Linked DNA regions of Homo sapiens: region 2 is linked to region 1. A link means that fine-mapping ties the variant in region 1 to the expression of a gene that starts in the linked region. Tissue or cell type: thyroid. Region 1 holds a variant in brackets; the other region holds the start of a gene. All regions are shown on one strand. Distances are between the middles of the regions.

The links. PIP is the estimated chance that this variant, and not a neighbour inherited with it, causes the effect.
Region 2: IRF5 starts here. The variant in region 1 is fine-mapped to the expression of IRF5 in thyroid (GTEx, PIP 0.92).

What each region holds. Positions count from the first base shown.
Region 1 is chr7:129,775,643-129,783,213 of GRCh38, forward strand. No RefSeq gene overlaps it. Among named protein-coding and RNA genes, the nearest start is that of MIR183, 4.4 kb to the left of the region's middle. RefSeq lists enhancers at 1,296-2,142, 4,681-5,526, 6,373-7,218, 7,219-7,571 and silencers at 3,841-3,970, 4,121-4,200, 4,261-5,060. The variant G/C (reference allele first, on the strand shown) is at 3,448.
Region 2 is chr7:128,933,795-128,941,365 of GRCh38, forward strand. IRF5 (interferon regulatory factor 5) reads left to right here and starts at 4,133. Exons shown (of 9, transcript NM_001098629.3): 1 at 4,133-4,255. RefSeq lists enhancers at 1-24, 2,461-2,755, 4,423-5,006, 5,040-5,109, 6,600-6,829 and 3 more and silencers at 1,176-1,265, 4,000-4,759.

The DNA of each region.
Region 1 (7,571 bases):
TGGGCATCTCTGCTGCCGGCCTAGGATCAAGGCAGGAAAAGGCCAGGAAAGGAGGGCAGAAGAGAAGTCCTGCAGCCACCCAGGTGGCTTGGAGGGAGCCGGAGGCACGGATGCACTCTAGCAAGGGAGTGGCTCCTGGCTGGCTCTGGAGTGACTGCGGAGGAAAGCGGAGGCTCAGGAGCGAGGGAGGGGCTGGGAAGGTTGCATCAGTGGTTGCCAGAGCAGCTGCCTAGAGAGAAGTTGCTGTGGAGGCCCTGCCTCTGGTGTCACAGGCCCTGGGGAAGGACGGGAAGAAGGGAGAGGGTGGGAGGGAGGGTCTCTGGGGAGCTGGCACCCAGGGCAGGCAAGCTGGGGCCTCCGCAGAGTGGCCACTAGAGTCTCAGCCTACTCCAGGTCAGCGGTGGCCCAGAAGGCAGGGTGGCTAGAAAATATCCTGGAAGGGTCAGAGCAGGTGCCCTGGCCCAGAAACTATGCAGACCTCTTGGCGATGTTACCCCCAGGAACTACCTCCCGTGGACCTCAGAGCTCCATCTGGGTACCTTGGCCAAAGCCATCCGCTCTCCCCTAGACACTGCTTAATGCTCCACCCTTCCTGCTCCCGAGGACTCTTTGTCCTGCTCCCACACACCCCCACTACAGGGCTCTGCCCTTCTAGCTGGTCTATCTCCCCAGAGGACAATCCAGCTTGATGAGGTGGTGATCTCAGGAAGTCACTCCTCAGCCTTCTGCCTCAGTTTCCCTTACTACAATTTTCTGAACTCTACTAAGGAAGAGAGACCAGACTTCCCAGCCTTGGGTGGGGAGGGGAAGGGGTGATGGCAGGGTGTTAGCAAAGAGTATGGGGTGGGTAGTTATGAACATTGCTTAGGGTGTAGCCATAAGCATCACCCAAGGAGCCTGTTGAAATGTAGATTCTTGAGCCTGCCTGGAAATCTGCATTTTAATAGCACCCTGACAGCTCAGCATGGGGTGGGGGTGGGGGTGGGAAGATCTATTTTGAGAAATCTTTCCCAAGAAGCCTCACCCTGGGATAATTAAACAGAATGCAGAATTCTTCTTTCTTCTGGCTGGGCGCAGTGGCTCACACCTGTAATCCCAGCGCACTTTGGGAGACGGGAGGATCGCCTGAGGTTAGAAGCTCGAGACCAGCCTGGTTAGCATGGTGAAACCCCCGTCTCTACTAAAAATACAAAAATTAGCCAGGCGTGGTAGCAGGCGCCCGAAGCTGAGGCAGGAGAATCGCTTGAACCCGGGAGGTGGAGGTTGCAGTGAGCAGAGATCGCACCACTGCACTCCAGCCTGGGCAACAACAGAGCGAGATTCTGTCTCAACAACAACAAAAAAAAAAAAAAAAAAAAAAAGAATTCTTCATTCTTCTTTTGGGGACAGCCAAGGATGGGGAGAGGCAGGTGTTAGGGAAGGGGAACACGCAGCACCTTGCAACCAAGGAGCCACAGAGGCCTTAGAGCTGGAGAACAGATGGAGCCAGGGATTCTGCTCTCCCCAGCCCAGGAAGGAATAAAAGGGACCCCAGGTAGAGGAGAGAGCCCTGTAACAAAGCAGCCAAACACGTACGCTCCTTCAAATTGTGGCATCTCTGTCGAGCTCCTTGGTCTGTTTTCCTCATCTTTGTAACTGACATAGGATGGAATACAGGGAGCAGCTCGCAAAGCCAAATCCCTCTCCACTTCCAGTTCTAGTCGGCTGGGCCAGGTTCCTCCCCTGCGCCTGCCTCACCCCTCCTAACCCAAATGCGACAGGAAGCCCAAGTGCCGCAGTGCCTGGGGGGTGCCACGCCCGCTGGGGCCTCTCCATCCTGGTGGAGGGAGGCTGGGGCCTGGGCCCTAGGGAAGCAAGGTCTCCCAGCTCTCTCGAAAAGCGGGTAAGAGGAGCTCTCCGACATCAGCAGCAGAATCCCCACTCGGAATCTCAAAAGGGAAAACAGAGGCCTATGGCTTGGCGCAGGTCAGGATAGCAGCCTCTTCTGCCCTCCCTGCAGGACACAGCCCTGACCTTGAGATCAAAGGCACAGAAATCCGCTTCTGGAGTGGGAAGATGAAGACAAGGTCTCCCACACCCGCTGGGCGTCAGCGCCTGGCAATGGAAGAGGACCAAAAGAGATGCAACTTGCAGGCCAGGCTGGGCAGCCAGGGACTCACAGGGTGTGTGGGGGTCCTACACATCCTAGGAGGTCTCCACAAAGCGCCCCCTCCCACCTTCGGTCGCTCTCAGCCCCACCCTCCTGAACTCTACTTGGGCCTTCTTAAAACTCGAGTCCCCTTTCCCCTAGGGGTGTCCCTTCCTGGGCACTGGTGCCCAATGCAAAGGGCAGGCCCCCAACCCCTTCCAGTGTTAGAGGTGAGTGTTGCAGGACTCTGGGCTATGGGTACTCCGGGGTCCTTAGACAGCACATAGCCTACCGCTCGACTCCTGGCTCTCCTCTCCACCTCTACACAACGAATCTGGAGTCCAGGGTCCCAGCCGCGCCACCCACAACCGGTCTGGTCCTGATCCCTCCAGTCTCTATCAAATGCCCCTGAGGTCCCAGGGGCTAGAGGCTGCTGGGGCCCTTGAACGGGCATGCCCTGGACGCTGCGCCTGTCATCCTGTGTCCCCATGAGGTGCTGGGAGAGGGGCCCAGAGCTCCTTTCCCCGAAGCCCAGGCCGCCACCGACCCATTAAATAAATACTCAGGTGTCTGGGGTGCGGAGCTCACTCCAAGAGCCACTGGGCCCCGGTAGGAGAAAAAGAATAAACGAAATCCTCACAAGTGAGGCCGGCATCCTAGAATTTTCTCTTCTTTGCGTAAGGCCGACTCCAGAGGTCCCGCTAACTCCCCCGCAGGAGCATGAAGGGGCGGCCTTGAGCGGTAAAGAAACGAGCAGTGGTGGAGGCTGCCGCTCCGAGCCCAGGTCCGAACCGAGAGCCGCGCGGGGAATGTGGGGGTCGAGGCTGAGAGCTGGGCTTGGGGCAGGTTCCTTTGCGTTCGCTCAGGCCACGATGAGGCCACTAGGACAGATTTCTCCGAAGGCTCGGCCTCGGATCAGAGATCCGCCGACTCGGTGCCCATCGGTCGGGCTCACTGGGTGACAGGTAGAGGGTGATGCGCACCCGTAGAGCTGAGTGACCCGGCCCGAGAATCCGCCACCTGGCTCGCAGGATTTTCGCCCTCAGGAGCTTTGCGAAGACGGGCGCAAACCTGGGAGGCGCCGCCGCACCTTGCCTGTGGGGGTGGGGAGGTCGATTACGGCACCGCCCGCCCTCGGCCCTAATCGCTCAGAGCCGGCCTCAGTGCCCCTGCCCCCGGCGGGTATTACTGTACACGGTGTCCGGGAGCCCGGGTTGGAAGAGCAAACGAATGGCTCAGCCTGGAGGACACCGTGGAATCGGGCGACCCCTGACCCCGGGTGACACCCTCACTGCCCATAGTCCTGGGATGCGCTGACC[G/C]GTGAGGCGCCAGAGGCAAGCCGTCCAGCCGCCGATCTTGGGGAAGGGCTGGGAACCTGGGTGCCACTAGCGCTATTAACAGGAATGGGGCAGTTGAGGGCGGGGAACGGTGTCTCATTCGCGTGCGCCGGGGTTCCCGGGATGAGTGGCCGCGAAGTGGAGGCACACGGGAGGTCTGAGAGCCGCTTTCCCCCAGAGACTGGGCGGGGCGGCTCCGGGCCACGGAAGCAGCCTCGAACCAGCCGCGCAGCCCTGACAAGACGCTGGAGGGGCCAGCTCCGGGGCCCCGGCGCTCTCCGCAGCCCCCTCCCAGCCTGGCGCTTCCGCCTGAGCCCACCAGGGCGGCGAAACGCAGCCCGACCCCAGCCAAACTCCTCGCGGGTAGGCACCTCGCAAGCACCGGCCGCACTCGGACCGCAGCCGCTCCCGCCCCCGCCCCCGCCCGGGAACAGCGCTGGGCGCTGGGCAGACGCCACTGGCGGACCCGGGACCCAGGCGCCCCGTGGGCGCCTCCGCCTGAAGGCGCGGAAGAGCGAGTAGGCACTGCCGCGTCATCCCCGAAAGCCAGCTGCGCCGGGACTTCTGCCCTGCACCCGGGTTCTAGTGCGGCCGGTCCCGGGCGCCCGCCTCCGCCTCCTCTACTGAGCCCCGCTCTGGCTCCGCCCGGCCCGCCCCCCCGCTCCCGGCCCCAGACACTCACCTGCGCCGGCTCCAGGCTGGGCGCACAGCCGCCTCTCAGCTCCGCGCGGAGTCCACACCAGAGAAGCCAGGCAAAAACGGCCCCGGTTTGGAAAGAGCCGCATGGACGGAGCTTGAAGCGCGCCCGGCCCGGGCCCAAACCTCCGCTGCCCCGCGAGAGGGGGCGGCGCCGGAGCGCCGAGCCCAGCGGGGGAACAAAGGGGAGCCGGGACCCGGCCGCGCGCTTCCTGGGTGTCGGGTGACAGGTCTGCCGGGGAAGGCCCCGGCCCGGCCACCTGAAGAGGAGCCGCCTCCGCGCTGCAGGCGGGGGAGGTCCAGAGGGGTACCTGGGCCCGAGGACCGGAAGAACAGGGGGCGCGGGCTGCCCGGACCGCGCGGCTGGACGGAGGCCCTGCGGCTCCGGCACGGCTGCGCGGGGGCTCGACGGAGTGCACAGAGAATGACTCCAGGAGGGTTTTACCGCCCCCCGCCCCGGGCCCCGCCCGCCCCTCGCGCAGCGCCATTGGCTCAGGTGCCGCGAGGCGGGGAGGGGCAGGGGGCGGGCCGGGGATGATTCACCTTGAATGTGGCTCCGGTTGGTGCGCGGCGCAGGGCACGCCCGTCCGGGACTGCGGAGACGCCGGGAGCCCCGCCTGCTTGCCCAACCCGGCCGGGTCTGGCCCCAAGGGGTCCCGTCGCCCGCCTTCTATCCCCGCCTCCTGCCCTCGGGCTAGGGTGCCGCTAGCCGAGGTGCGCCCGGACGCCCTGCCACCCCAGCGCCCTCTGAGCCCGGAGCTAGCCGAGGTGTGTGTGGCGTGGCGTGCTTGGAAATCCGACCCTGGGAGGGGGGAGGGGAAGTGCGTTGGGAGCTGGGGCGCACCGTAGGGCCACTGGACGATCTCTGCAGTCTCCCCGCAGAAAGGTGCTCAAGGCTGACCTGTCTCAGGGGGCGCACCCGGACCCAGGGGCGCAGGGCTGGAATGGGGACAAGGGGCCTCCATGTCCTCACACGCCCACCCTCGGCCAGTTCTGCGGCCTCACAGGTGTCTGGCCACCGCTGCCGCCGCCGCCGGGAACAAAGGCTGTCTGTCCCAAGAGAGGGAGGGGGAGGGGAGCCGCCCCCCAGACCCGTTCCCATCTCCCCCTCCCCCCACTGCGACAGTGGCTCCCTCGGGAGGGGGCGGGGCCAGCCGGGGCTGGGGCGCGGACGCGGATTAGATCCTTCTCAACCGTCCTTTGGTCTGACACCACCCGGAGCATTCAGAAGGGACCGGGGGGCAGGGGCTAGGTCCTCCAAGCTGTCAGCGTTGGGGTGGCCTCTTCCTTCTTCCCCAGCATCCTGAGCACCGGAGCGCCCCCTCCCTCCCTGCTGCTTTGGCTGCCCTTGGCAGTCCCAGCTCCGCCCCGCCCGGCCGCCCCAGACGGCAACGGCAGCTCAAAACCAGATTAAAATAAAACGTTAATCCGCCCTTCTCCTTTTTAGCTTCTAGTTCTTCCCAATCGACCCCCGCAGATCTGGCACCCTAGAAGCCCCTGTAAAATGAGGGTGGTGCTTAGCCTATGCTCCCACCAAACCTAACCCTTGCACTTGAAGACCGTTAACACCTTGTCTTGGGCTCGAGCAAAAGAAGGGGGTGAGGCAGTGGAAGCGGGGCCCGGGAAATCTATAGTTTCCCCACCCCCAGCTCCTGCCGAGCCGGGAGGGGCCAAGGGTGACGGCAAGGATACGAACCCTTCAATATGCCCGACTCCCGGGCAGGGCCTGCTGAAGCCGTAGATGTCGCAGCCAGATGGATCGGGAAGCAAGATTCCCACCCCAGGTGGATAACTGGACGAGTCTCAGGGCCTCGGGGCCCCTCTCCCCATGCAGCCAGGGATGGGCACGGTGAGCGAGAACCCGGACAGCGGAGATAATGAGCACGTCACAGAGCCCAACGGGCCAAAAGGGGGTGATAGCTCCACATTAACCCCTCCCCGTCCTACTAGCATTCCCCCGCCCATCTAGGTCGCCTCGAGCCTCCCTGGCTGTCTCTGCACCCGCGCCCTACCTGGTCCTCAGACCCATGCGATGCTGGGCAACCCGGGCCGGGTGTGCCCAGGACCGCAAAGCGGGAAGCGCAGGCCTTGCGGACTGCGAGTGGCCCCCGCGGCCTGCTGCTCCCCTTTATAACGCGCGCCCCGCCCCCCGCGCTCCGGGCGCCCCGCCCTGGCCCATTCACCTGCTGTCGAGAACCAGACACCGCGCAGCAGAAAGCTAGCCGCTGGGCCGCGAGGTCCGGCCGTCGGAGCGGGCGGGGCTGGGGCGCCGCCGAGACAGATCCGATTTCCACCTTTTCTTAAATGCGCTGCTGAAAGTCGAGAAGGCCCCGGCCGGGGAGCTCGCGTCGCTTCCTCCCCCCTCAGCTCCCCTCGCACCCTGAGTCCCCCAGCCCCACTCCGGGAGGGGCCGCGAAACTGCACCCGCAAGGGCCTCATACATATTTTAAGGAGCAGGCCAGGCAGGTAACCGGAGCTGGACTCGGACGGTGAGGGGGCGGCCCCCGGGGACCTGATACCCTGGATCCCTTACGGCTCAGGGCTCAGGCGGGGGAAGAGGTGGCTCAGGACGACCTGGGGTCCTCACTTTGCTGGCCTGTCCAGCGCATCCTAAGCCCGCGTGTATCCTACCCCCTCCTTCTGCAGATCCAATGTCCGTCTGGCAATTGCCCCATTCCCTCTCGCTGGAGAGATCCCTTCCGCCTCGCCACAGGCGTCCCACGCTGCCCGGAGTCGTGCGCCCCGGGACGGGTAGTTTTGGGTTCCTCGACGCTTGGCCAGGTTTAGGAAAGACCCGCTGTCTTCCTTGCTGCCCCCACCTAGGAGACTCGGCGCCTTGCGCTCCGTCCTTTTTAATGGTGTCGCGGCTTGTCCCTCTGGCTTGCTCCCTCCTAGTCCCTACCCCACACGGCTCCCTTCGCCAGCTCCATGACAATCCCACTCGTGCTGAAGACCTTGGGCAAAGAAGTAACCATCGGTCTTCCCCTCCCTTCCCATTCCTCCGGCGGCAGGACTAGGGGGAAAGGTGCCCGGGATACAAGCCCCTCACGCAGACCCACTGATGCGGCCGTGGTTCTGCCATTGGCCCCTCTCCGAATGGTGAGGTTCTCCTGCTAACCCTGGCCCCATGGCATAACTAGTATAACCCCAGTGAGAGGAACCCAGAGTTCCAGTCCTCCCCTGCTCCAGTCCCTCTGTGATCTCGATCTCGAGGGATTCACTTCACCTCTCTAAGCCTCAGTTTCCCATTTGCAAAATGGGCAGAATGACTCGCACCTCTGGGGATGAAGAAAATGCACATGTGAGCACGTGGGTACTTGGCGACCCGGAGATCTCTGCAAACTGCAGGCCCAGCGAGATGGCCTCAGCACGCCCTGCACCCTCGTCCGCGCGACTGCCGCCGGGTGCCC
Region 2 (7,571 bases), 840 kb before region 1:
CCATGTGAAGACAGAGCCATGGATTGGGAAAGGTGGAGACTCCGAGTGTAGAGGTGTCCATGTAACAGTGCTGGCTGAATGGGGGACTTCCAGGTCACACCCCAAAAAGCTCTGAGCCGGTGTTAGTAAGAAATGGGGAGGAAGGCCCAGCTGTGGCGCCCTGGGCATTAATCCTAAAAAAAAAGATACTACTTCTATGTGCCAGAAACTTCAAAGCAAGTGAACACTTCAAGTACGAGAACCAGAGGTGTTTTTTTGTTTTTTCTTTTTTCTTTTGAGACGGAGTATCGCTCTGTCACCCAGGCTGGAGTGCAATGGTGCAATCTCGGCTCACTACAACCTCCGCCTTCTGGGTTCAAGCAATTTTCCTGCCTCAGCTTCCCGAGTAGCTGGGATTACAAGTATGAACCACCACGCCTGGCTAACTTTTGTATTTTTTTTTTTTTAGTAGAGACGGGGTTTCCCCATGTTGGCCAGGCTGGTCTCGATCTCCTGACCTCAGGTCATCCACCTGCCTCAGCCTCCCAAAGTGCTGGGATTACAGGCGTGAGCCACCCCACCCGGCCAAGAGGTGTTAAAATCTAAATCAGACTATGTCATGCCTCAGATCTGAACCTTTCAGTGACTGTCCCTAGCAAAGCCATAGCCTGTGAGGTGCCCCTCAAGGCCTCACCCGATTTCATTACTTGAGGATTTATCGTCTATCTTACTCTGCAGAATGGAAGCTCCAGGAGGGCAGGGGTTTTTAGACAAAGTAGAAATTGTCCACCACTTTATCCTGGCAGGTACAACATGCCCGATAAGCATTGTTGAATGTAGACTCACAGCCAATTCGTGACACTGGTGTCACCATTCTCCTTTACAGATGGGAAATGGGGCTTCTGGGGGAGTGAATGGCTTGCTTAGGTCACGCAATTCTAGATTGCAGAGTGAGGATTTGACTCAGACCTGTTGACCTCAGAGCCTGATGTCCAGCCAACAAGTTCTCAGAAACTCGGGGTTTCTGAGAAATAGGACAGTCAGCCTGGGGACCCCTGAGAGCCCAGGCCGAGGGGGTGGGTTTCCTGGGGTAGAGGTTTTGAGAGGCAAAGGCAGTTGTCATCAACCCAGGCTGCACTGAAGGGGGCTGTTCCAGAGCCAGGGTGCATTGTTCAGCTGCCCAGTGGGCCTCTGGGTTTCTTTCAGTTCCCTTTGGTGACACGGCTTCCCTCCTCCCCCCTGCTCCCCACCCCAGCCACCCCACTCTACACTCGCTCACACAGCGTAGCTTCTACTCGAGTCAGGGGAGGGTGCCTCCTACCACACCCTCAGTCTGTGATATTCCAGCCAGGGGAAATGGGGGAAGGGGCCATCTCACTGTGGGGAGTGGGGGGCCCGGACAGACCTCCCTGTCCCCACCGCCTCCTGGCCCATCAAGGGGAAATGGGAGTGCTCACACAAGGGCCGGGTGTGGCTTCACTTCCCCTCTACTTGCCCTTCCACCCCCAGGATGGCACTGGGAGGCCAAGGGATCCCAGATCCTGGAAACACTGGAGTGCTGCTCTCTGTCCTTCCTTTCTCCTGGGCCATGTCTCTGGCCCCAGATGATTCTTGGCTCAGGTTCTTTCAGTTGAGGGAAGTCAGGATCTGAGCCAAGCTGAGCCCCTGCATAGCCTCTATCCCGGGAGCCCCATATCAATGCTGCCGGCTTGGTAACATCATCCCCCTTTTAGAGACGAGGAAATGAGATTTGAGGTCCTACTTAAGGCCACTTGGCTGGAATACAGCAAAGCCAGGTGCAAGCCCCTTCTCTGCACGCAGCCCGTGCTGCTTCTTGAGGTTCAGAGGCTCTAAGGAAGGGGCCTCACCTGAGCAAGATGGACAGTGGGAAGGGGGCAGAGGGCAGAATTCTAGGGTCTCACGGTCCCTCAGAATGGGTGAGGAGTATTTGATAACAAAAGAAGGCTCTTCTTAGCTATTGCTCCAGATACGACCAGCATAGAATATTTTTCTATTAAGCATAACTGACCTCCAGTGAAAAAGGTTCCCATTTTGTGGGGAGCCACTTTTGAAATAGCAATTTCATTTTATTATTATTATTTTGAGATAAGATCTCACTTCTACGCCCAGGCTGGAGTGCGGTGGTGTGCCTCCTGGGTTCAAGCAATTCTCCCACCTCAGCCTCCCAAGTAGGTGGAACTATAGGTGTGTGTCACCACGCCAGGCTAATTTTTGTATTTTTTGTAGAGACAAGGTTTTGCCATATTGCCCAGGCTGGTCTCGAACTCTTGGACTCAAGTGATCTGCCTGCCTTAGCCTCTCAAAGTGTTGGGATTACAAATGTGAGCCACCGTGCCTGGCCTAGCAATTTCATTTTTAAAGAAAGAAATATAAAACGATCTACCCATTCACATTTTCCCCATCCATACTTTAAATTTTAAAAATATGAAATAATGAAATACTCAGCAGATACAAATAATAAAATACTTATATATAATGATATTTCGACTTCATATTAGGGCTTCAAAGGTCAGGAAAGAGGGAGAGATACAGAAGAGAAAAAAAAAAAACGTTAACACATGAGTGTCTTTTTTTAACTTGTTAAAGGTAAAGTTCAACCCAGGAGAAGGGAGGGGAGGGAAGGTCAAAGTTCTGATTCATCAACAAATACTACTTTATTTGTTAAAAATACAAGGCTCTGCTTGGCGCAGTGGCTCCCGCCTGTAATCCCAGCACTTTGGGAGGCCAAGGCGGGTGGATCGCCTGAGGTCAGGAGCTCGAGACCAGCCTGGCCAACATGGTGAAACCCCGTCTCTACTTGGGAGGCTGAGGCAGGAGAATCGCTTGAACTGGGGAGGCAGAGGTTGCAGTGAGCTGAGATCGCACTGCTGCACTCCAGCCCGGGTGACAGAGCAAGACTCCATATCAAAAAATAAAATAAAATAAAATGAACAATGAAAAGACAGGAGGGAGGTTCCTGAGTAAGCTGATTCGAGTGGAAATCAGACATCAAAATTGAAACCCGCTGAATTTTCCAAAAAGCCAGATGCTCATAGAACTGAAGCTTGAGACACTTACATCAGTACACCTGCTGCCTGTTGACCAATTCCTCTTCCTTGTCCCTCCTGTTTTCCTTCCCTGCTATATAAGCCCCTAACTTTAGTCAAGGGGAGGGATGGATTGGAGGTTTGTCTCCCCTCTCAACAGCTCACTGGCTGATGTCACCGGAATAAAGTCTTCCCTGGCAATACTCGCTGTCTCAGTGATAGGCTTTCTGTGCGGTGAGCAGCCAGACCTGGACCAAACCCCTGGCAATCCATAACAAAATCATAAGCAAAATCAACCAGGAAGCTATTTGCACCCTGGAACCCCACCTGGGAGGGGAAGTCAAGGCAGACTTTCCAGAGAAGGCGATGCTGAAAATTTCAGAAACAGAAATTTTGAAGAGCAAGAGTTACCAAGCGAAGAACATTCCATGAGAAGGAACAGGAGGTGTGTGAAGGTGGAGGTTCTGGGGTGAGGTTCTTTATGGAATCGAAAACGGTTCAGAACCACAGGTCGACGGTCAAGGTAGTAGTGAGAGGAGGTGGGACAGGCGACCACGCCGCTGCCCCTGGGATGACTGGAAGGCGACTTAGGGGAGCTGGGGCGAGACAGGTGCAGGGTTTGAGGATGAGAAAGGCACAGAGTGACTAGAGGATTCCCGCCTGCAAGCACATCTGGAAGGGGTGTCTGGATCCTGGGGGCAGCGACTGTGTTCTAGGGCGAGAGCCACCCTCGCCAGGGGTGTAGGCAGGCGAGAGGAGGGCCTGGAGCTGTGGGTCGGCCACACTGCGCCCTCATTTGTGTGCAGCCCCGGAGGACCAGAGTGGGGAAGCACCCCACCCTCTCCCAGGGCCCAACTGAGCACTGCAGCGGGAGGTACGGGGTTGTCAAATGACAGTTTTGCCATTCCAGATTGCCAAAAGAGCCAGTGGCCAGTCTAGGGCACCGCGCCGTCTGGCATCTCCCTGGAGGCCCTGGGCCTGGCCCGAGGCTCAGCCCGGATCTGCAGTTGCCAGGTCAGTGCGGGGCCCGGAGTGGATTCGCGGGGCGGGGCGGGGCACTGCCCGCGCCCGGAGCTCAGCAGCAGCTGCCCAGGGGCGGGGGCGGCAAGACGCGGAAGTGCCCGGCAGGTTGGCGGACCGGCGGGAGGCGCAGCCTGGGCAGAGCTCAGCTTGGTCCCGCCGCCCGGCCGGTGCTCCCTGGCGCAGCCACGCAGGCGCACCGCAGACAGGTGGGTCCCGGCCGCCGCGCTCTCCTCTCTGCGTCCGCGCCCGGCGCGCCCCGAGGGTGGCGGGAGCGGTGCCGGCTACTGCCCCCAAGTCTAGGCCTAGACTGGGCCCCGCGCCCCCCAGGCACCTGCGGGCGGCGGGATGAAGACTGGAGTAGGGCGGGGTCCGCGTCCAGCTGCGCCTGGAAAGCGAGCTCGGGTGGGTGCCTACAGCAGGGTGCGCCCGGCCGGCCTGGGACTTCCAAAGCGCCTCCCACGCCCCGATCGGTTTGGGGTGCTGGCGCCCGGGGAGCCCAGTGACCCAGGCGGCGGAGTGGGCAGCGCTGCGGGGGGCGCCGGCTCTGCTGCTCTCCCTCCCCCTCGCCATCGCCCAGAATGGGGGTTCCCGGGAGCCCCGCTGGAGGCTGGCTTGGACCACAGAGGAGCGAGGCCCGATCCTTACTTTCGATGCACTCGCCCTTGCTCTTACCGGGCCACCCTCACCCTTTCGGAAAAGAGGTTGAGGTTAAAGCGTTCATCCCCCGGGATCTTCAGGCCAATGGCAGGAACTGTGCAAGAGTTTGGGGGAAGATGGTGTCAGGTAGAGGCTGCGTCCCTGGGCTCGCGGCCGGGAATGGCAGACTCTCGTCCCCCGAGCAGCGGAAAAGGATGGGGCGCAATAGTTCCTGGGCTGGTTTCCTCAGGTCCTGTCCCAGAACTTAAGAAGGCAACAATGAAGAGGCTAAACGTGGAGGAAAAGTGAGGCTAGCATGGCCGGGATGCGTGGGGAGATGGTTGTCTCCGGACCCCGGGAGGGGCGGGAGCGGGTACCTGGGAGCAGAGGCTGGAGTGGGGGACTTTCCCAGCCTCGCGGCCACGCTGAACACAGCAGGGCGAGGACCGGGGTGCTGCTCCTCCAGCAGCAGGAGGAGAGGTCCAGAGGCCGACTCTGGAGGTGGGGGTGGCTCCGCGGGCTGGCCCAGGGGGTGTGCCCCAGCGGAGCACGCGGGAGGGGTGGGGGCGGAGGGGAGGGGGGAGCAGGGGCGGAGGACTGGGCTGGGCCTGGGCTCCTCGAGGGCCCAGAATGGGGATAAGTGACCAGAACCAGAGAGGGCTCGGCTGTATCGATGTAGGAAACTGTAGCCCCTCAGGAGGCCCTCTGGCAAGACCTCCCCTTCCTGCCCCCACCCCCAGTAGTTATGGGGCCTGGGGTGCTGGGGCTGAGGGGTTCCAAGAGTCAAGGGAAGCACTGGGAAATCACCCCTTTTTATCTAAAGGCCCTACTTTGGGGTTTTTCCCCTGTACCCTGGTCTTCCCCTACCCTGACCCTGGGAGGAAGCTGAAAGAAGCTTCTTTCTGGGCACCTTTTGCCCCAGAGCCTCAGCCTGTCTGGACCAGGTGGGCAGCAGGGCCCAGGGTGTGGGCAGCTGACCCGGAGGGGTGGGATTTGGGGGTCAGGGCCTGTACAGGGAACCCCTTGTCCTCTCCCTGAGCTGGGTGTGGGTTTGCAAGGAGACATGTGACCCAGACCAACCCTGGGAGCAGCAGGGCGCCTGCTGTCTGGCCACTCTTACTAGGACTGCTGTGGCACTTCCTCCCCTAGTGGGTCCCTGGTGCCCATGAATTGCAGCTCCTGGGTGGTGGTGGGGGCACTGTCTCCTGGGACTCCAGCATGGCCCTGGGGTGAGCTGTGGGCTTACCCCACCTCAGCAGGTCCTCTAGGGCTGCCCACTGGATGCTTCGCTGCCTCACACAATTGTAGGGACTTCCTCAGGCTGTTGGATTTCCCCACCTTCCGGGGCTCAGGTCCATTGACTTAGGTCTAGGGCTCCATACATTTCACCCAGAGACTCCGGAGCCTGGCAGGCAGACCTGTTCTGACACCGAACTTCCAAAGTCATGGGCCTTGATTGGGGTGGTCTGAATTAGACCTAGCCCTTTTCTGGGCAGAAGGGAGCTTCTAGGAGGATGGATGCTGTTCGGGTTAGAGCTCGTGTGGACCTAGCTGCAGGCAAAAGCCTTGAGGCTGAGTCCCTTCTGTGGCATGGTGGACAGACTCTCGCTCATCACAGCCGGGCTTGTCACGGGAGCTCCTCCTCCACACCCCTCCCTAAGCTGCCTGTATGGACGCGGCCCTCTGACACTGAGGTCGGAGTTATCATTTCAAAACCTTGCTCTGTATTAAACAGCCGTGTTGGGCAGGGCCAGACTGCTGGACTGACAGTAGGGGGCAGGCAGCCGGACCCTCTGAGCTCCCCAACGGCACCAGCGCCTGCACGGCCTCAGCCCAGGGGGTCATTAGGGAAGCTCTCCCCGATTCTGTGCAGACAGAGCTTCCTCTGTCCACCCTTGCTCGGCCAGAATTGTGTGCCGCTGGTGACTGGCACCCCTCTATTCTAGGGCCAAGGCCTCTCAGGGGTCTACAGATACAACTATGGGTGGGTGCACACCCATGTTATAAACCACACTAAATGCACAAAAACTGTCTGCAAGTTTGGGGTGCGGGGAACAGCTCTGGGTGGGAGGTTGGAAATTTGGTCTGGGGGACCCACTCGGCTCCCTCCCTCAGCCCACAGTGAGTCTGGTTTCTGAGTTGTCCCGGTCTAGCCACTTTCGTTTCCCCTGGGGCCGGGTGGAGGCTGGGGCAGAAAGCGGAACTGAGCCCGCGTGTTCTGAGGCCAGGGCAGGGCTGGAGCGTTCTGAACACCTCCCCGTCCCAGCCCCTGGGCCAGGCAAGGGCCGGCCTTACCTCTCCTGGGTTGGTGGCAGCAGAGCTGGGCTCTGAGGGAGGCCTGCAATGTGAGACAGTAGCAGCTCAGAGGCGGCACTAGGCAGGTGCAACCCCAAAAGGTACTGGGCAGGGAATTTCAGGGGAAACTGAGGCTCCATGCTGCAAGGCCAAAGCAGGCCCAGACACAGGGAGTTCAGCTCGAACGTTTGCTCCTTACTTGCTGACCGACACATTCACTTCTGATGGGCTGTGCTGTGTAATGACCCAGTCCTTTCTGTCTTCCACCCAGGGGTCTCAAGTGAAGGGCCAAGGGCATGGGTAAGGGGAGGAGAGGGACAGAAGGGGACTCAGGACTGTGGAGAGTTTCCGGTTCTGGGCTGGAGAGGGAGTTGGGCAGGTGAAGGGGAGGAGGCAGGGTCCCTCTGGCCTGACTCCAGGGAGGCAGTGAAGCTGTGGCCTGGGAGGCGGGGCTCGTGCCCCTGGGTAGGTAGCAGTTAGAGCTGTGGCTTCTGTTTCCTGTAGCCTTCCTAACAGGCTCCGGCAGGCGTTAGGGCCTTCCTAAGTGCTACCCGAATGCGTGTCCAGTGGGAGGAGAAGGGGGAGGACCAA